2 separate regions of the Homo sapiens genome follow, and region 1 is linked to region 2. The links come from fine-mapping of genetic effects on gene expression. A gene starts in region 2. The other region holds a variant in brackets. All regions are shown on one strand. Distances are from middle to middle. Region 1 has its middle 25 kb from the start of HOMER3. Region 2 holds the start of HOMER3 (homer scaffold protein 3).

The links. PIP is the estimated chance that this variant, and not a neighbour inherited with it, causes the effect.
Region 1: its variant is fine-mapped to the expression of HOMER3 in whole blood (TOPMed, PIP above 0.99).

What each region holds. Positions count from the first base shown.
Region 1 is chr19:18,965,140-18,968,041 of GRCh38, forward strand. No RefSeq gene overlaps it. Among named protein-coding and RNA genes, the nearest start is that of HOMER3, 25 kb to the left of the region's middle. The variant A/T (reference allele first, on the strand shown) is at 1,468.
Region 2 is chr19:18,939,671-18,942,572 of GRCh38, forward strand. It overlaps HOMER3 (homer scaffold protein 3), which reads right to left and starts at 1,547. Exons shown (of 10, transcript NM_004838.4): 1 at 1,381-1,547. It overlaps HOMER3-AS1 (HOMER3 antisense RNA 1), which reads left to right and starts at 584. Exons shown (of 3, transcript NR_134913.1): 1 at 584-954. RefSeq lists a silencer at 1,511-1,710.

The sequences.
Region 1 (2,902 bases), 25 kb after region 2:
CCCAAAGTTTTGGGATTACAGGCGTGAGCCACCGTGCCCAGCCGCAACTCATTTCTTTTTTCTTTTCTTTTTTTCTTTTTTTTTTGAGACAGAGTTTAGCTCTTTTTGCCCAGGCTGGATTGCAACGGCGCGAGCTTGGCTCACCGCAACCTCCGCCTCCCGGCTTCAAGCGATTCTCCTGCCTCAGCCTCCCGAGCAGCTGGGATTACAGGTGCCTGCCACCACACCCGGCTAATTTTTTGTATTTTTAGCAGAGACAGAGTTTCACCATGTTGGCCAGGATGGTCTCGATCTCTTGACCTCGTGATCTGCCCACCTTGGCCTCCCAAAGTGCTGGGATTACAGGAGTGAGCCACAGCGCCCGGCCAACTCATTTCTTTTCTAACAAAAAACAGCCTGAAAAATCGAGCTGCAGACATGGATAAGCAAGTGGGAAGCTTCCAGGGGTGAATACCAGCAGCTGTGTCAATGGAAAAGGGCCACCTGAGGGCCTGGCATGTTCAACATGGGGGCTCCAGCTTCCCTTTTTTTTGGTCACTACGTGTACAGTAAAGAAACAGGTTTTAGTTTGGCTGGGCACGGTGGCTCATGCCTGAAATCCCAGCACTTTGGGAGGCTGAGGCAGGTGGATCACCTGAGGTCAGGAGTTCGAGACCAGCCTGGCCAACATGGCGAAACCCCGTCTCTACTAAAAATACAAAAATTAGCCAGGCATGGTGGTGGGCGCCTATAATCTCAGCTACTCAGGAAGCTGAGGCAGGAGAATCGCGGGAACCCAGGAGGTAGAGGTTGCAGTAAGCCAAGATCGAGCCACTGCACTCCAACCTGGGCGACAAAAAAAAATGAACAGGCAACATGGCGCCAGCCAGCTAGAGAACTCATCTGCATAATAAAAGATTAAGAAGCCAGGCGCAGTGGTTCATGCCTGTAATCACAGCACTTTGGGAGGATGAGGCAGCAGATCATGAGGTCAGAGTTTGAGACCAGCCTGGCCAAGAGACCAGCCTGGCCAACATAGTGAAACCCCATCTCTACTAAAAAAATTAGCCGGGCATGGTTGCAGGCACCTGTAATCCCAGCTACTCAGGAGGTTGAGGCAGGAGAATTGCTTGAACCAGGGAGGCAGAGGTTGCAGTGAGCTGAGATCGCACCATTGCACTCCACCTGGGAGACTCAAAAAAAAAAAAAAAAAAAGAAAGAAAAGAAAGAAAAAAAAGATTAGGATGGGAAGGCCAGCTTTTCACACCCTATGCAAATTACACACATAGCCTTAACCAGGTTTTTACACCCTATGCAAATGAAACACCTGGTCCAACCAATCTTTTGTGCCCTATGGAAATCAGACACCACCTCCTTAAGCTCATCCATAAAACTCACTGCTTTTTACTGAGGAAGTGGAAACCCGTTCAAGATCCCTCTCTCTGCAGCAGAGAGAGCGCTTCTCTTTCTTTCACCGATTAAACTTCC[A/T]CTCTGAACCTCACTCTTTGTATGTCTGAGTCCTAGTTTTCCGGGCCTGTGAGACAACAAATCTTGGGTATTTACCCCAGACAACAACACTACTCCAGTGGGAGGGAACACTTGAAGCCAGGAGTTTGAGGCCGGCCTGGGCAACTTATTGAGACACCATTTCTATAAAACAAACAAACAATAAGCAGGGGCTAGGCATGGTGGCTCACGCCTGTAATCCCAGCACTTTGGGAGGCTGTGGCGGGCAGATCACCTGAGGTCAGGAGTTCGAGATCAGCCTGGCCAATATGGTGAAACCCTGTCTCTACTAAAAACACAAAAATTAGCCAGGCATGGTGTCAGGTGCCTGTAGTCCCAGCTACTTGGGAGGCTGAGGCAGGAGAATCACTTGAACCCAGGAGGTGGAGGTTGCAGTAAACTGAGATCGCACCACTGCACTCCAGCCTGGGTGACAGGGCGAGACTCCAACTCAAAAAAAAAAAAAAAAAAAAAAAGCTGGGCACGGTGGCTCATGTCTGTAATCCCAGCACTTTGAGAGGCTGAGGTGGGTGGATCACCTGAGGTCAGGAGTTTGAGACCAGCCTGGCCAACATGGTGAAACTCCGTTTCTACTAAAAATACAAAAATTAGCCGGGAGTGGTGGCACACGCCTGTAATCCCAGCTACTAGGGAGGGTGAGACAGGAGAATCACTTGAAAGGAGAATCACTTGAACCTGGGAGGCAAAGGTTGCAGTGAGCCAAGATTGTTCCACTGCACTCCAGTCAGCCTGGGTGACAGAGAGAGACTCTGTCTCAAAAAACAAACAAACAAAACAGTCAGCAGGAACAGGCTCCAGGGAGAGACGTTCTGCTGCCTGGGTTGGGAGGGCTATGAGAAGTTGGCAGAAGGAGGAGCCTAGGGAGGTTCCTAGATTTTTCTGAGTGCTTGAGGACTCTCTCTCTGATTTGGGGAGGCTTAGGGAGCACTGGGCAGCTCTGAGAGTGGCCTGGGAGCCTGGCTGTGCCCCCTGCAATCCTGATGCTTTGGGGTAAGCAGGTGTTTGCCCCACCAGGCCGGAGGGCAGAGCAGTTCCTCTGGAACATCTCCCAATGCACAAAGGTTCTGGATATGGGTATGACTGTGAACTTCCCCTCGGCAAATACCTCCCCGACGGAAATGCACACGCAGCCTTCTCTCTTGGAATAAGGCAGGAAAATAAAAAAATAAAAATAAAAAATAAATGTATAAGAAGGTGAAGTCACAACGGGCAGTAGACAGTTGGGGATATTGCACCATCCCTGCAGGAAGGAAGCACCTTGGAGCTGACCCAGGCCGCCTCACTCTGCTTCCTTTTGAAACGCTCGTGACTTTTCAAATACTGCATTTTGCTGACAGGGCAAAGCATGCTCAGCTGGCCATGACGACAGGCTCTCTGGAGACTTGGAGAATGTTCC
Region 2 (2,902 bases):
TGTGGAGGCCAAATCTCTGCTGAGTTCTTTCCACCACATTCACCCATGACTGGCCAGAGCGGGGCTCTCCACCAAAAAATGGGGCGTTGAGAGGTGTGTAGTACCAGGAGACCAGTTCCCCACTACACCCTGCAGAGGGACCCCACCCCCAGCAGCTCCCACCCTAGGGCAGAAGCACACCTTGAAGTCCAGAGTCCAAATCCCCAGGGAGCCCCCAGCCAAGTTAAAAAGACAAGATGTAGACAAACAGCCAATCCCAATGCCCACCATGAGGGCAGAGCAGAATCCACACTGGGAGACCAGGGCTCCCCAACCTCCCCATTGGGCCATTCAGCAACCCCGAATCTGCAGGGGACCAAGGAGGAGTTTGGAGGAGGGGGAAGACAGGTGGGGGAGGGGAGGCCCTGGCCCAGCGGCCTCTGTGGTCAAAGGGGGGATGCCCCCCCTATCCTGTCCTGGGCAGCTGCTGTCCTGGTCACAGGGTCTGAAACCGGAGCCCCTGAGTGGGGGTGGGGCGGCAGCTCTGGCCTGGACTGGGGGCGGGTCCTGCGCCGGGTGGGAGTTGGGGAACACAGGGGTCCCCGGAACCCAGGCCCTTCCGGTCCGGCAGCTCCTGCTGCGACTTGCAGCGTTTGGGGAAAGTTACTCACCAACTAGTCATGCGCCTCGGATGCCGCCGGCCACGGGGCTCCCGGAGGGGGGTCCGACACCGCCCGGTGCCCGGGATCCCCAATCTGGCCGGTGGATGAGGCCCCATCCCATGCACCCGAGTGCGGGGGACGGGGGGGTTAATATTAATTCAGGATCCCATCCCCACCCGAGGCAGGACACCCAGTGCACGCCCCAACTCCGGGACGCGGGCTCTGACCCTGGAACTTCCGAGATTCCCGCGACGCCCCCTGTCTCTGGGTCCAGAACTTCGGGGGACACCTCTTCTGCCTCCTCCAACCCCAGGTCGGTAACTCCGGGGACTCCCTTCGTGACTCCTCCTCTAACTGGGTCCGGGACCCCGGTCCTCCGCGTTGTCCTAGACTCCTAAACTTCGAGGACCCCCTGCCACCCCTCCAGTCCCTGGGTCCGGGACGTCCGGACCCCTCCCACCCCAGTACCCCACCCCAGGTCCGCAGCTTTGGGGACCTCTTCGCAGCCTCCTCCAACGCCGGGTCCAGAACTTTGGGAACCTCCCACGCAGTCCCCTCTCAGACCCTGAATCCAGAACTTCGGGACCCCCGCGCTCCCTCCAGCCCTGGAACTTGGGGACCCCTCGCGCCGCTCCCAGTCCCGGGTCCGAAACTTCTGGGGAACCCCCACGCCCTCCCCTTGGCCCTGGGACTTCGAGGCCCCCGCGCTCCCAGCGCAGGCTCGGCAGGCCGGGCTCACCCTGCCAGGTCGGCGCCCCGCGAGTGTCCAGGCGCGAGTCGGGTGCGGCCCCCGCGGCGCTGACTCCGCGCTGCCGGGCGCCCCGCTCGCTCCCTGGCTCCCGGGCCCGCGCCCTCCGCGCCGCCCTCCACGCCGCCCGTGCCTTTGTCTGCGCCGCCGCCGCCCGCGCCGCCTCCGGTCCCATCGCGGCCGGTCCCGACGCGGCCGCCGCCCGCCCCGCCTCCCCGGGCCGCCAAGGCCGCCCCGCTGCGCCCCCTGCCGGCTTTTTGCACTGGGAGAGGGTATGGGGGAGGGGATAAGGGGGAGGGGCGGGGGCCGGGACTGGGGAAGGGACGGAGGATTGAGGGAGGGGGTTAGGGGCGGTGGAGGGGGAGTGGGGGGGGGGGTTGCGTGGGGTCGGGTTGGGAGCAGAGGGTGGGGACAGAGAGACAGACGGAGAGGGACATCTGGGATGAGAAAGAGACCCAGAAACAGAGACACGGGGGAGACAGGCGGAGAGATAGGAAGCAGATGGAGAGAGTTGCACGGACAGCGATGTGACCTCACCCTCCTGTCACCTTCTCAGGAGACAGCTGCCTCTGTCCCCACTACCTGAGGTCATAACTTTGGGCCTGTGAGGGAGGTCAGGTCCCTCCCGGGCTGACATGGGTGGCCCAGTGAGGTTGGGGAGGGGGCAGTGGGTCTCAGGGTCTGCATACAGTAAGTGCTCAATGGGTGTTGCCAGGAAACGGAAGAGATCAACTTCGGGAGGGAACGGGAAGCAAGACAAAGAGAGAGAAGCCTCTGTTCCCCTGCCCGTCCCATCCCTAAGCAGGGACGTCTGTCCACCTCTGTCCCTCCCAAGACGATGGTAAAAATGCCCACAATGGTTGGATTAAGGTTATCTTTGCTGTTGTTTGAGGGTTCCAAAATCCAAAGGCTGAGGAAATGTCTCCAACGCATGGTTGCATCCCCTCAGCCTCCACTGGCCTGCGTTTGTCACCTCTGGTCACAGGGAGCACCCCCTTCCCACACTTGCCAGGAGAGCATCCTTCCGGAGTTGAACTAGGATCCACCTCCCCAGCCCCAAGCCCATGTGTCCCACTTGTCAATCCTGGTGCCGCCCCCTCTCTGGCACCGTCTCCAAAATCACACGGTGCGGCGCCGTTGGTTCGTTTGTGGACAGAGGTCCTGCAGCTCCCTGGAACCAAGGCCTGTGGCGCCCTAAAGCTCTGATCTTACATTTGAGTTTTTCTTTTCTTTTCTTTTCTTTTTTTTGAGACAAAGTCTCACTCTGTTGCCCAGGCTGGAGTGCAGTGGCACAATCTCGGCTTACTGCAGCCTCTGCCTCCCAGATTCAAGCAATTCTCCTGCCTCAGCCTCCCGAGTAGTTGGGACTACAGGTGCATGCCACCACACCTGGCTGATTTTTGTATTTTTAGTAGAGATGGGGTTTCACCATGTTGGCCAGTCTGGTCTCGAACTCCTGACCTCAAGTGATCTGCCCCCCTCGGCTTCCCAAAGTCCTGGGATTACAGACGTG